2 linked regions of the Homo sapiens genome follow. The protein of the gene in region 1 interacts with the protein of each later gene in a biochemical or structural test. Each region holds a gene or a part of one and is shown on either strand. Other genes may lie near its edges.

Region 1 (7,827 bases):
CAAATACAGGAAATATCAAAATACTAATATTGGTTGAATTAGATTAAGTGACAAAGTGACTTGCTAAGGTCATACGGTCAATGAGAAGTAGAGCTGGAATGTATTACAGTTCATTATTTTCTATCCCACCTTATATAAAAAGGTGCCAACTATTTGAATGCAAGGACTTTTTTGCTTATCTGTAGTGATGGATATCATAAAAATTATGCATGGATCTTTTTTTTGGTCCATGCTATCATTAGTGTTAGTGTATTTTATGCGTGGCCCAAGACAATTCTTCCAGTATGGCCCATGGAAGCCAAAGGGTTGGATACCATGGAACTGTTAAATTTCAGAGGGTCAGAACTATCACTGCTACTGATGGCAGCCCACCAGCAAAGAATGGGGCAACTTGTATATGTAGCTGAAATACCAATAAAAATAAGTTAGAATTGATTTATATTTTTAAAGTGCTACATTTAAAACAAAAATGAAAAACGTTCCTTTAATCCGGTCTAATAGGTATCATTCAATTTGAGTAAAACTGATTGTGCTCACAAACTGTGATGGGTCCAGACAGGTGCTTATTCACATAGACCTTAGCATTTTAGAGGGGAAAGAGATACACATCTAGATTCCTACAATATAAGGCAGGCATGAGAGGTGCCCAATGATCTCTCAACCAAGTGCTATGGGAACATCCATGAGAAAGACAGATGTTTCATTCATTCCTTTTCCTATAGGAAAATCTCTCTGAAGAAAGGGCTTTTATCTTTTTTCTTCCACATGGTATGGGTGGAGACAACTGGTTGCATAAGTGGCATATCTTGAAAAATATGAAATCTGGAACCAGAAGACCTGACCTATCTCTTATAAGACATATAACCTCAAACAAATCACTTTCTAAGGCTGCCAACCACAGAACATTTGCTGTAGTGAGCACCACACTCAAAACTTCCAGTGAAGCTTATAGTGAAGGGTGGTAGGGAGCGTTCTTTTCAGAAAAACAATTGGTAAAATCTGTAACTCAGAATGAGAGGCCAGGAGCTTCAGTTTCTCAGCTTTGCAAATATGCATTACAAGACACAGATATCATAGGGAAAAATAACATAGGGAAACCTAGTACGAAAGCAGAAGTAACAATAGATGTTGTTATAACTTCATCGATTCAATGTAAGAATGACTTTGCTACCTACGTTTCAATAGGTTTTTGCCAAAGCATATATCTGACTGTAAAAATGGAATGCTGTTTTTGTGCTAGTCAGAATTTAGCAATTACCTGGTATTTCAAACAAAACCTTACATAGTTTTTATTATTATAATCAAAAACATCAAACTAAACTAAGAAAAATACATGGCTCTTTTCAAACATAAAAATAAGGTGCTAGATTTCACTGATAAACTATATGTAGAAGAAATAAACCAGAAGGTAAAAGTGAGGAAAAAATTCCTTACGAAAATCATGGATCTACACTGCAGTAGAATTATTTAGACCTAAGAAGTTCACAGTAAAGAAAATACTAGAAAGCTCAATCATGTTGTGCTTGTAAAATTAAGAATAAAACTAGAAATTTTTATAAAAATTAGATAAACAAATGTTTTATTTCAAAAGAGAGAAAAAAATAGCTGGGCTACAGTTAAAATTTAACATACAAACTGAAAGCAACACGCCTGTTTAGGGAAAAGAAAGTTATGTTCAAATTGGTAAAGTTGAAAAAACAACTTTTGCAAAGTAATTTGAAGAGTTCCTGCTGGTTTCTCTCTCCTACCTCACTCCCCAATACATTATCCCATTTTTTAAAAGTACTATTAGCACAACAATTACAAAGAACCTAAGAATTTCACTTCATTTCCCACAACATAAAACCAAGAGAAAAAGTTTTTTCAGGGAAGGTCTGATAATCCCTACATCTACTTGGCAGCCTATATCTTTCTTCTTTAATGAAAAATAAACTTCTCTCTAGCTAATAAAGAATATCACAAAGAGAGAAACAGGCACTCACAGAAATGAGATCCTGGTACATACCTCAATATTCATTACATGTTTACAAAATCATCATTCCTAAAAAAAAGAAAAACCAAAACCCACACAAATAGACTATCCCCATTTAATTTTATTATGAAAATGAAAGTAACAACAGGAAATGGCAGCAGGGTATTTGATAAGCTCAATTAGCAGGAGGATCAAATGAAGTGATGACATGCCATTATGACCTCAGGGGTTAAACATTCAATTTTCCATCTGGCGAAATCTAGATTTCCAACACAAATGCTGACACCACCTGCTGTATGTTATTAGGCATTATCTTGAGCAATCCCTAAGCATTTTCTGTACAACAGGTATAGCCTCAAGTTTTTTCATATTTCATTCTGCAATATAATTGCTCCCCCATGAAGAGAAATAAAAAATAAATCCCATATAATGGCTCATTCAAAACAGACATTAAAATCCACACTAAAGCATTTATTTATCAATCATGGCGGTAGCAAAAATATCAAGACTATTTTTCTTCTAAGTCACAATTGACATTGTAGCTATCATTTTCTATAGCACCTAGGAGTCATTCCAATTAAGAGTTCCCTTTATAGGTTTTTTGTTTTGTTTTTTTTTTAATACAGACAGGGTCTCACTATGTTGCCCAGGCTGGTCTTGAACTCCTGAACTCAAGCGATCCTCCTGCCTCAGCCTCCCAAAGTGCTGGGATTACAGGCATGAACCAACATGCCTGGCCCATTTATAGATTCTTAATTAATAGCCTCTTGCTACTGAAATGGAATTTTGTCATGTCTAATAAGAATCAGATCTACAGAACTTCACGAAATAAAAATTCACTGCATTTTAAAATGTAATCGTTAATCTACTATGTTTCTTTGATTGACGCAATGGTAAACACTTTTAAAAATTTTTATATACCAAGTGCTGGAGCTCATTTGTGAGTGTTCAGACCCTTCCATACATGCATTATCAAGAATCATGCTATTAGGCTCTGCAGGTGGTAAGCCAGTGGCTAGCCAATAAATGCAGAGCTCTCATCTGGATTCAACTGATGCAGTTTGCATACTAAAATGTTTGCACACACAAACATGAATGCACATACATCTACACACACTCACACTCTACTGTAAGTGAAATACAGATACAAGTTCAGATACCCAGTCTTGAGATTTCATACTGGACAGTCAATAGCAAGGCAATCAATATCACAACTGTTTTAATACCTGTTTTCCAGGACATACCAATACCAATTTTTTCTAATAAAATTAACTTTTTACCATCTGTGTACCTCCTTCCCTAAGCAAATTCACCAAGCTCCCCATGTTAATCCAGTTGCTTTTTAGTGTTTGGTAGGTCTATGGGTTTCCTTCTCATTAAAACTTATTCCTGGCCAGGCACAGTGGCTCACACCTGTAATCCCAGCACTCTGGGAGGCCGAGGTGGGTGGATCACCTGAGGTCAGGAGTTCAAGACCAGCCTGGTCAATGTGGTGAAACCCCGTCTCTACTAAAAATAAAAAATTAGCTAGGCGTGGTGGCACACGCCTGTAATCCCAGCTACTCGGGAGGCAGAGGCACAAGAATCACTTGAACTTGGGAGACGGAGGTTGCAGTAGCTGAGATCACACCAATGCACTCCAGCCTGGGTGACAAGGGCAAACCTCCATCTCAAAAAAAAAAAAAAAAAAAAAAAAAAACACAACTTACTCCTCAGGTTATTTCGTTTTCTTCCTCCTGGGTAAATAGGTATTTCAGCAATGTGAACATCTAAAAATTCGTAAGTAACTCTATGAAAACTTACTTGACTTTCTGAATCCACACACAGTAGTCTGAGATGTAGAGATCATTCAGTATGTACGCTGGGTCATTTTCCTGAAAAATTTTGTGAATATCCAGGAGACACTTTAAAACTGCACTTTTACCTAAAGAAAATTGAAAAAACATAAAATTATCCTTAAGAAAAAGAAATTCAGACCCTGAGAGGTAATATATCTAAAGCAGCTCAGAATCCTGATCATTTCTTAAGAACATTTTTAAATGCAAAAAAATTTATGAGTCCTATTAGGTCCAAACCCCTTTACTGATTTCCTTAAGAATTACATACAATCTTTGGCCAGGCACAGTGGCTCACACCTGTAATTCCAGCACTTTGGGAGGCCGAGGCGGGCAGATCACGAGGTCAGGAGATCGAGACCATCCTGGCTAACACGGTGAAACCCTGTCTCTACTAAAAATACAAAAAATTAGCCAGGCGTGGTGACAGGCACCTATAGTCCCAGCTACTCGGGAGGCTGAGGCAGGAGAACGGCGTGAACTGGGGAGGTGGAGCTTGCCGTGAGCCAAGATCGCGCCACTGCACTCCAGCCTGGGCGACAGAGAAAGACTCCATCTCGAAAAAAAAAAAAAAAAAAGAATTACATATAATCTTTATATTCTGTTGTTACAGCTGACTAGTTGTGGTTATCATTAAAATGCTATGAAATACAACTAGGTCAATTAAATGAAAGGCAGGAAAGTTTTCTAAACCAAATGAATATCTAAATGCATCATAATTTTTATTAGATAATGTTCTTCCAATTCAAGCTTTCAACATAACATGGAAAACTGTATTCTAAATTTCAAACTTCTTTATTTCTTATGTCAACATTTTCTGTCAAGGAGTTATCTACTAATAACAAATTATTTTACCTTAAAGAATTGAAGAAAACTGAACACTAAAACATCATAGCACTACTTCAGAAATAAGCTGACAAAACTCACATGAACAAAAGCCATCAAGTATTAAAGCCTTGTTCAACCTAACTACTTCCTCCTGGTTTTTAAATGAACCTAGTTTTAACCCAACCAAAGTCTACAAAAGGAGCCTTTTACAACTCAGCAATTCCCTAGGTGTTCCAAACTTCATGATATTTCCTGAAATTTATTAATTATAAGGTGAACTATTAATTCTACATCTAGAGTAGTACCATTTTCTTTGATCTGTGAAATTCAGTATTTTCAGTTTAACAGTTTCATTCTTATCTTTACAGTTCTGAAACGCGGAAATACTGTATACTGAGTTCATGAAGATACTGGATGCACTTTCATTGACATTTCCCATTTAACTTTTAGATCATAAAAGAATCATGAGCTAGATGATGACATCTCAAGATCCTAAAATTGCTGACACTAAATTTTTTAACATAATTAACACTAGAAAGTAAGTTTCAAAAGAGCAGGGGCTTCTGTTTTATTTAGTGGTTAATCCCCAATACCTAGAACAGAACACCGCAACAGCAGGTTTTCCATTTAAGTGTTCTAAGAATGAATGAATACATGATAGACACAGTAATCACCCAGCTTAAACCTTGAAAATTTCTTTCATTCTACGGTCTCACCCGTCAAATCCTGATGATTTTTCCTTGGAGATGCTCCTTGTATCTGCCCTTTCTATGCCATTGCCTGAGCTCCTATGTTCACTCATATTCTCATCTCATGCCTCGATTTTAAGAATCCTCTTTCCCATCTTTCAGATTCCAGACTCTACCCCTTCAAACACACATTTTTTAATGCACTGCTTTCATGGAGTCTCTTCCCTGCATATGTTCTCAATGCTCTTTCTACAGACTTGTTTCCATGCCTTTTTCCCTTCTCCATGTGACCTAGCCCACTATCAAGGTCTAGCTCCAGTCTTCATTCCTTCGGGAAGTTCTGGGCTGACTTTCCTAGTCTTCACGGTCCTTTACTATAATGCTGCCAAGAAGTGGAAAGGAAACTCAAAATGGGGAAAGTCCTCCCCATAACCTCTCCTGTTCAATTCCCAGAAGGAAAACTGGAGGCTTCAGGATGGGTAAGATACAGGGCCACTGAGTTGAGGGACCAAGATCTAAATTCCAATCTTAATGGCTCCAGAGGCTACCCACTGTGCCATGCTACCTGTATGTTCTTGCCTCATCCAGTCTATATCACAACGTTTTTATTACTCAAGGACTTATTACTGACTTTAACCCCTAAGTAGGTAGTAAGTCTGAAAACAGAGTCCATACCTTTTTAAAAAATATTAACTTTGTGGCTTCCTCATATGCAGATACAATAAAGAATGAATGAAGAATGTCAATGAAAGCTCCACTGCTAGACTGACTGTGAAGAGAAACTAACACTTAGAAGGCCTAAAGCTACAAGATGTCAAGTTCATTTGGTTAAGGCAAGGTCAGTGCTATGGCTTATCAAAGTGGCACAGGTTAACTATGTCAAATGATTAGTGTGGATCACCCCAGCACAAGCCTATTTTAATTACAAACTAGGTAATGTTGAGAGCAGGGTTTGATGAAAGGAGGAGGAAATATAATCAAAATTTGCAGGCATGATGAAACCATGTTTGCCACACTAGCCATGTTACCCAAAGAATCAAGGAACAACTGACCTGTAAGAATGTTTTGAAGTTTTAATTGCCACAGAGAAGACAAATGTCACAGTAAGCATAGGCCAACTAATTTCTTTCTTGCTTTCCTTCTCTCTCTCTTTTTAGAGGAAGGAGGGTGCAGAGGGAAGGAGTTAGTTTTAGAACTACTAAAAGTTTTAAATGTCAATCGTAAGTCTTTACTGGAAAAACGAACTATTCTCTTGTAACTTGAATAAGCTTCTCTGCTGTGTGACACCTCCAGAATACTCTCTCTCAAGATCCCACACTTTACTAATATAAACAGGTTAACAGAAAATGCAGGATTGGGGCTAGGCGTGGTGGCTCACGCCTGTAATCCCAGCACTTTGGGAGGCCAAGGCAGGCGGATTACGAGGTCAGAAGTTCGAGACCAGCTTGGCCAGCATGGTGAAACCCCATCTCTACTAAAAATACAAAAATGAGCCAGGCGTGGTAGTGCACGCCTGTAGTCCCAGCTACTCGGGAGGCTGAGGCAGGAGAATCACTGGACCCGGGGAGGCAGAGGTTGCAGTGAGCCAAGATTGCGCCACTCACTCCAGTCTAGGTGACAGAGTGAGACTCCATCTCAAAAAAAAAAAAAAAAAAAAAAAGAAAGAGAAAAAGAAAATGCAGGATTTGGAGAAAACCATTTGGCTAGAGCAAAGAGTTCATGTAAGGAAAAAAAGGAGAATAAGCAGATGAGTTTGGTAGAAATCAGACACTAACAAGGAGGAAGAGAAGAATGCACTTGGACAGACTGAGTGAGAACGTCTCTAAACTTAGGTGTGGGCAGTAGGAATAAAGGACCCTACTCCCGAGATCATAATGTAAAAAGGTATGGAGTTAAGGTCACATATTTAATGAGGATCCACAGCAGCCATTACCTGATAAAATTATACACAGCTTCACTTACCAGACATGCCTAAAGTGAGGCTGCCCTCTTGCTAAAGGCCACAGGCAAATTTAAATCTTCCAGCTATCACAAAAAAAATAAGAATAACAATGAAAAGAAATGTCAAATAACAGGCAGGGCATGGTGGCTCATGCCTCTAATCCCAGCACTTTGGAAAGCCGAGGTGGGCAGATCACCTGAGGTCAGGAGTCCGAGACCAGCCTGGTCAACATGGTGAAACCCCATCTCTACAACAATAAAAAAATTAGTCGGGCATGGTGGCATACGTCTGTAATCCCTGCTACTCGGGAGGCTGAGGCAGGAGAATCGCTTGAACCCAGGAGGTGGACGTTGCAGTGAGCAGAGATCACACCACTGCACTCCAGCCTGAGCAACAGAGTGAGACTCTGTCTCAAAAACAAAAGAAATGTCAAATAACAAAAAATAAGAAATGTCAAAATATTTTTTTAATTTAAAGAGAAGAAATTACATTGTATTTGCATGTTCTGATCCCTATTTTCTTAAAAAAAAAAAAAAAAAAAAAGACTAATACTCATTTAAA
Region 2 (7,827 bases), on another chromosome or scaffold:
CACGACATGGTATTTTGTTTTGTGTTGTGTCGTTGCTTTGTAGAATTTTGATAAGCTGAATGTAAGGACAACACACTATACACCTCTTGCATGTGGTTCAAATCCTCTGAAGAGAGAGATTGGGGACTATATCAGGTAAGTGTTGGGAGGAGGCACTGTGCAAACTTACTTTCTTTTGAAAATGCTTTCACATCAGCTATTCAGGAAGGCAGTGGCATGCCAGAATAGCTTTGTCTTGAATATATAACCTGTACCCGCAGTGAATTATTTTTCTTTTTAACTTTTCAGATTTGTTGTTTCACTGGAGCATTAAGAGTGGGTGATACATTAATTTTTTTTTTTTCCATTCCAGGACAGGTTTCATTAATCTTGACAAGCCCTCTAACCCCTCTTCCCATGAGGTGGTAGCCTGGATTCGACGGATACTTCGGGTGGAGAAGACAGGGCACAGTGGTACGCTGGATCCCAAGGTGACTGGTTGTTTAATCGTGTGCATAGAACGAGCCACTCGCTTGGTGAAGTCACAACAGAGTGCAGGTATGTGGGAGAGGGAGGGAAGGACTGGCTAGAGTGAAAAGCTTTCTGTATTTCCCTTCTATGTTTTGTCTGCTGGAAACTATTTCTTCATTAAGAAAAAAAAAAATCCTAAAGCAAGGATATTGTTTTGGTTTCTGTGTACGTTCTGTCCCCTGCCAGATCTTGGTGGTCCGCGCTTTTTGGAATTCCACATACTAAGCATGTATTCATCAAGCTGACTGGATCCATTTGTCCGGGTTCAGCTCTCAGCTTGTCACTCCAGGCTTCTCACTCTGTGCTACCGCTTCTGCCTAAAGTATCCTTCGTTCATTTTTATCTGAGAAAAGCCTGCTTATCTTGCAAGGCTTTTTCCACGCAGCTTCTACACTGAGTACTCCCAACTGTCCCTGTTAGTACATTGAATTCCCAGTGAGAAAGTGTCTTCATTCTTTCCCACATCATCACCATGAAATCTCTCTTAATGCAAATTTTATAGAAACACAAGGTCAAACTGCCGCTTTTCCTGCTGTGCAAAATGGGAGTGACTGAGCATATAAGAAATATGGAAAACAGAAAACTCAGTGGCCACACCTGACTACTCTTTTGTCATTTTTCAGGCAAAGAGTATGTGGGGATTGTCCGGCTGCACAATGCTATTGAAGGGGGGACCCAGCTTTCTAGGGTAAGTCTGCAATTGTAGGGAGGACACCCTTTGTTGACTTGGATCTCTGAGCCCCTAAACATCTGGAGATGGGTTAGCTGTCCTGACTGACTCCTTTTGTCCCCTTTTCAGTCGGCTGCTGCAGCCAGCCTGGACCAGTGACTGCACATGTACATTCTGATGAGGTGTTTGTTTTCATTTGTGTTTGTTCTTAGGCCCTAGAAACTCTGACAGGTGCCTTATTCCAGCGACCCCCACTTATTGCTGCAGTAAAGAGGCAGCTCCGAGTGAGGACCATCTACGAGAGCAAAATGATTGAATACGATCCTGAAAGAAGATTAGGTGAGTCATTAGGCCTGTGAGTGGGTATGAACACATTCTTCAGGATTCTGTTCTCTTATTAAAAGTAGATGCCCTTGAAGTTGAAGACTTTCTAAAACCTGCCCTACAGCTGGGATATTGTCTGTGGGCGATAGTTTTTGTTATCTTTTGTTGAAAAAGTGAACAGTGCCTAGTAAAGTGAGATGGCTTTTACACCTTTTATGATGACTGCTTCTGCTGGAGTTGAAATGTTTTCATTCTGCATTTGTGTAGTTCGGTGCTTTGTTCAAAGGTAAGTGTTTTCACCAAAGTATGTTTTGCATGTGTTTTTTATTTGTTGCAATTTTGACTGCTTAGAAGTTTCTGTTGTCAGAAGTAAATTTAAGACAATGCCAATTTTCCTCCCATCCATGAAACATACCATGCTGAATATACCTGCAACTTAAGTGTTAAAAATTCTGCTAATATCAGAATTACAGATCTTTTTTTTTTTTTTTTTTTTTTTTTGAGACGGAGTCTCGCTCTGTCGCCCAGGCTGGAGTGCGGTGGCATGATCTCGGCTCACTGCAAACTCTGTCTCCCGGGTTCACACCATTTTCCTGCCTCAGCCTCCCAAGTAGCTGGGACTATAGGCGCCCGCCATCATGCCCGGCTAATTTTTTGTACATTTAGTAGAGACGGGGTTTCACCATGTTAGCCAGGATGGTCTTGATCTCCTGACGTCGTGATCCACCCGCCTCTGCCTCCCAAAGTGCTGGAATTACAGGCGTGAGCCACCGTGCCTGGCCAGAATTACAGATCTTTACAGCAAATGCTTATATTTTAAGAAGTGTGTCTGTCACCTCTAGTCTTGGTGGCTCAGATGAAGGATAACTGCATTTCTCAACCAGTGATGTATTTACAGTAGGTGCTGCTTTTCTTTTGTGTGTGTGTATCTTAGGAATCTTTTGGGTGAGTTGTGAGGCTGGCACCTACATTCGGACATTATGTGTGCACCTTGGTTTGTTATTGGGAGTTGGTGGTCAGATGCAGGAGCTTCGGAGGGTTCGTTCTGGAGTCATGAGTGAAAAGGTATGTGTTACGGGGCTAGAAGTTTTAGAGCTGGTTCTTACCATCTGCCAGCCTTTGATGGCACTCCACTTGCTTCATGTCGTGGGAAAGATGCTTTCCAAAGTGTTGAGTTCAGTCCAGGGCAGCTTCCCTGTTCTGTTAATTAAACTTTGGGACATTAAAATGGGCTAAGGGAGATGATTGGGTAGAAAGTATTATTCTATTCATTTGCCTCCCAGCCTACAAAAATGCCTGCTTGGGGTCTAATACTTCAACGGTTAAAGATGCCTGGAAGAGGGCGCGGTGGCTCACGCCTGTAATCCCAGCACTTTGGGAGGCCGAGGCGGGTGGATCATGAGGTCAGGAGATCGAGACCATCCTGGCTAACAAGGTGAAACCCCGTCTCTACTAAAAATACAAAAAAAATTAGCCGGGCGCGGTGGCGGGCGCCTGTAGTCCCAGCTACTCGGGAGGCTGAGGCAGGAGAATGGCGTGAACCCGGGAAGCGGAGCTTGCAGTGAGCCGAGATTGCGCCACTGCAGTCCGCAGTCCCACCTGGGCGACAGAGCGAGACTCCGTCTCAAAAAAAAAAAAAAAAAAAAAAAAAAGATGCCTGGAAGAGCCAGGACTGAAGAGGCTGAAGACATAATGAGCTTGGACTAGTAAACAAGTGACATTCAGTTTTAGGAAGTTTGGGGTCTGATGGGCTGAGATACAAATAAACTGAATTATTTTCATACATGGCTGCTTTTCAGGACCACATGGTGACAATGCATGATGTGCTTGATGCTCAGTGGCTGTATGATAACCACAAGGATGAGAGTTACCTGCGGCGAGTTGTTTACCCTTTGGAAAAGCTGTTGACATCTCATAAACGGCTGGTTATGAAAGACAGTGCAGTAAGTTCCGGGTTAGGAGTTTATATTTGGAAAGAACGTACTCCAAAGATGAGGCTTGCTCTTTTTATTGTTTTCCTTGGGTTTTATTTTATTTTTTTCAAGTCCAAACCAAGTATATTAATTTAAAGTAAAAGTTTAATGGTAGGCATACTTAAAAATAAGGCACATTAGGCCAGGCACAGTGGCTGATGCCTATAATCCTAGCACTTTGGCAGGCTGAGGCAAGAGGATCACTTGAGTCCAGGAAGGAGTTTGAGACCAGCTTGAGCCCAGGAGATCAAGGCTGTGAGCTGTGTTTTTATGATGATCAGAGAGTTGGCCTTTTATAAATTAAAACATTGTCTTTTTCTCTAACTTGAGGGATAAAAATTTCTGGATATTTAAAATGTTTGTAGTTGGTAATTATTTATATTCAAATCTTGTATAGATGTTCACATTTTTTGTATGTGTATAGGCTGTAATAAATACTGAAAGATGGCACCATAATAGTTGAAAAAACTCAGTCACAAAACAGTGGACAACATAAATGTGATGTCCTCTCCTTATCAAACCATTGGCTTCTGGGTGAATGTAAAGGGAGGGGAGAATGTGATCAAAAGAGGTCTAGGTGAGTGGAGATGGTATGAGGCAGATGGGTGCATTGGGTACCATTGAACCTCTGGAGAGGTAGCCTTAACTTGTACCCACTGACCTATAAATTCTGCACCAAGACTTTTGTGTGATTGGTTCAACAGGGCTCAGTAATCTTGTTTTCAAGTTCTTTAAGAGCCTGTTATTGCCTGGATCTCCAGTAAATCTGTTCTTTCTCCTCATAAGGAGGAGAGAGGAGTAATTAAGGAATGCCAAGGCTATTTTTATGTTTCAAATGAAAATATGGACCACGTGCGGTGGCTCACACCCATAATCCCAGCACTTTGGGAGGCCGGGCCAGGCAAATTGCTTGAGCTCAGGAGTTTGAGACCAGCCTGGGCAATATGGTGAAACCCTGTCTCTATTAAAAATACAAAAATTAGCTGGGCGTGGTGGCACGTGCCTGTAATCCCAGCTCCTTGGGAGGCTGAGAATCACTTGAACTTGGGAGATGGAGGTTGCAGTGAGCCGAGAATGTGCCACTGCACTCCACCCTGGACAACAGAGGGAGGTTCTGCCTGAAAATTAAAAAAAAAAAAAAAAAAAAAAGAAAATACTTGTGAGTCTCTAGAACCTGAAAACCTGAAAGTCTTCTTTACTACTTTTGAGTCGTGTGTAATGTGCGGAGAGTGGTACCTATAGCACAGTGAGGTGGCTCTTCTGAGTACCACTCATGCCCCTTGCAGCTAGTGGGCTATAAGTGTCATCCCTGTTTCCTGGTGTCAGGCCCCACTCCCTTGTTGTCCTCCTTTACTCTGGTGTGGGAGTGGGGTGGAGGGCAGCAGCTGGGCCCCTTACACTTGGTGCCATCTCTGCAGGTAAATGCCATCTGCTATGGGGCCAAGATTATGCTTCCAGGTGTTCTTCGATATGAGGACGGCATTGAGGTCAATCAGGAGATTGTGGTTATCACCACCAAAGGAGAAGCAATCTGCATGGGTAAGAGGGGATGTTTATTTTTTAAATTCTAAATGTTTGTGGTTACATACTAGGTGTATATATTTATGGGGTTCATGAGATGTTTTGATACAGGCATGCAATACATAATAATCACATCATGGAGAATGGGGCATCCATCTTAAGCATTTATCCTTTGTGTTACAAACAATCCTATTTTACTGTTAGTTATTTATCACCTTAGTTATTTTAAAATATACACTTAAGTTATTATTGATTATAGTCACCCCGTTGTGCTATTAAATAGTCTCACTCTTCTTGTTCATTCTTTTGGTTTTTTGGTGGTGGTGTTTTTTTTTTTTTTTTTTTTTTGAGACAGTCTTGCTCTTTTCACCCAGACTGCAGTGCAGAGACGTGACCTCGGCTCACTGCAACTTCTGCTTCCCAGGTTCAAGCGATTCTCGTGCCTCAGCCTTCCGAGTAGCTAGGATTACAGGTGCACACCATGACACCTGGCTAATTTTTTGTATTTTTAGTAGAGACAGGGTTTTGTCATGTTGGTCAGGCTGGTCTCGAACTTCTGACCTCAGGTGATCTGCCCTCCCAAAGTGCTGGGATTACAGGTGTGAGCCACCATGCCGGGCCTGATTTTTTTTTTTTTTGTACCCATTAACCATCCCTACCTCCCTGCCAGCCCCCCACTACCCTCCCAGTCTCTGGTAACCATTCTTTTACTCTTCTCTGTCCATGAGTTCAATTGTTTCGATTCTTAGCTCCCACAAATAAGTGAGAACATGCAATGTTTGTCTTTCTGTGACTGGCCGATTACACTTAATATAACGATCTTCAGTTCCATCCATGTTGTTGGAAATGACAGGATCTCATTCTTTTTTAAGGCTGAATAGTAATCCATCGTGTATATGTACCACATTTTCTTTATCCATTTATCTGTCGATGGGCACTTCGGTTGCTTCCAAATCTTGGCTACTGTGATCTCTTTGATAACACTGATTTCCTTTATTTGGGGTATATACCCAGCAGTGGGATTGCTGGATCCTATGGTAGCTCAATTTAGTTTTTCGAGGAACCTCCAAACTGTTCTTCATAGTGGTTATACTAATTTACATTCCCATCAACAGTGTACAAAGGTTCCCTTTTCTCCACATCCTTGCCAGCACTTGTCATTGCCTGTCTTTTGGATATAAACCATTTTAACTGGAGTGAAATGATATTTCATTGTAGTTTTGATTTGCATTTCTCTCGTGATCAGCATTGAGCACTTTTTCATATGCCTGTTTGCCATTTATTTGTCTTCTTTTGAGAAGTGTCTGTTCAAATCTTTTGCCTGTTTTTTGATCAGATTATTAGATTTTTTTTCCTATAGTGCTGAGTTCCTTATATATTCTGGTTATTAATCCCTTGTCAGATGGGTAGTTTGCGGATATTTTCTCCCATTCTTATGCATATGGATATCTAGTTTTCCCAGCACCATTTATTGAAGAGACTGGTTTTTACCCAGTGTATGTTCTTGGCACCTTTGTCAAAAATGAGTTAAATGTAGGTGTGTGCATTTGTTTCTGGGTTCCTTATTCTGTTCCATTGGTTTATGTGCCTGTTTTTATGCCAGTACCATACTGTTTTGGTTACTGTAGCTCTATACTATAATTTGAAGTCAGGTAATGTGATTCCTCCAGGTTTGTTCTTTTTGCTTAGGATAGCTTTGGCTATTTTGAGTCTTTTGTGGTTCCATGTAAAGTACCAGTGTTTTTTAACTTGTGAAAGCTTAGCTACTGTTGGATTGTCTCTTAAGACTTTAAATGCTCTGCGCACCCTCTTAGTGAATGAACCTTAGAGCTATTCATTTAATGGGTCTAATTTGTACCAGAAGTAAGCATGTCATCAGGATTCCTTAGCTCTGTGAGCAGGCAAGGCAGCCACGGCTTATGGACAGCAGCAGAAAAGGAATCCTTAAAACTTCAAAGGTTCTGTGGCCCCAAAGGGAGTGTGCATGCCGTTCTTATAGACGTCTTGAGCTGCAAGCCTGTTATGTGTATCGTTAGGTGCTTTGGTTAGGTGTTTTTTAACTTCAGAAGTTTAACGTCATTTCAAAGGCCTCCTTCTCATAATGGAGTATTTCCTCCATATGCACATCCTGAGCAAAGGTAACCCCAATTAAAGTAGTAGCTCAGAGTTTTAAAAGTTTTAAAGTGGCATACAACAGTAGAATTGGGGCTCATCAATTATCAATTCTTTCACCCTTCAAATAATTCTTTTCTTTATTCAATGCCTGTAGCTATTGCATTAATGACCACAGCGGTCATCTCTACCTGCGACCATGGTATAGTAGCCAAGATCAAGAGAGTGATCATGGAGAGAGACACTTACCCTCGGAAGTGGGGTTTAGGTCCAAAGGTAAGTGGTACTGGGTTGCGTGCCCTGCCAGGTTCTTTTTTTTTTTTTTTTTTTTTTAAATTTATTTTTTTATTGATAATTCTTGGGTGTTTCTCACAGAGGGGGATTTGGCAGGGTCATGGGACAATAGTGGAGGGAAGGTCAGCAGATAAACAAGTGAACAAAGGTCTCTGGTTTTCCTAGGCAGAGGACCCTGCGGCCTTCCGCAGTGTCTGTGTCCCTGATTACTTGAGATTAGGGAGTGGTGATGACTCTTAAGGAGCATGCTGCCTTCAAGCATCTGTTTAACAAAGCACATCTTGCACCGCCCTTAATCCATTTAACCCTGAGTGGACACAGCACATGTTTCAGAGAGCACAGGGTTGGGGGTAAGGTCACAGATCAACAGGATCCCAAGGCAGAAGAGTTTTTCTTAGTGCAGAACAAAATGAAAAGTCTCCC

What was found.
Region 2: the proteins of SHQ1 (region 1) and DKC1 are reported together in a solved structure, tested with the Homo sapiens proteins (2 studies listed by BioGRID, with this or other methods).

The regions. Positions count from the first base shown.
Region 1 is NC_000003.12:72,789,141-72,796,967, forward strand, and holds part of SHQ1 (protein SHQ1 homolog), read right to left. Parts: intron 3,897-7,827; coding exon 3,776-3,896; intron 1-3,775. UniProt on the Homo sapiens protein: Required for the quantitative accumulation of H/ACA ribonucleoproteins (RNPs), including telomerase, probably through the stabilization of DKC1, from the time of its synthesis until its association with NOP10, NHP2, and NAF1 at the nascent H/ACA RNA.
Region 2 is NC_000023.11:154,765,864-154,773,690, forward strand, and holds part of DKC1 (H/ACA ribonucleoprotein complex subunit DKC1), read left to right. Parts: intron 1-43; coding exon 44-135; intron 136-352; coding exon 353-537; exon of another isoform or gene 538-1,133; coding exon 1,134-1,198; intron 1,199-1,392; coding exon 1,393-1,519; intron 1,520-2,438; coding exon 2,439-2,569; exon of another isoform or gene 2,570-2,939; intron 2,940-3,303; coding exon 3,304-3,447; intron 3,448-4,895; coding exon 4,896-5,016; intron 5,017-7,267; coding exon 7,268-7,386; intron 7,387-7,827.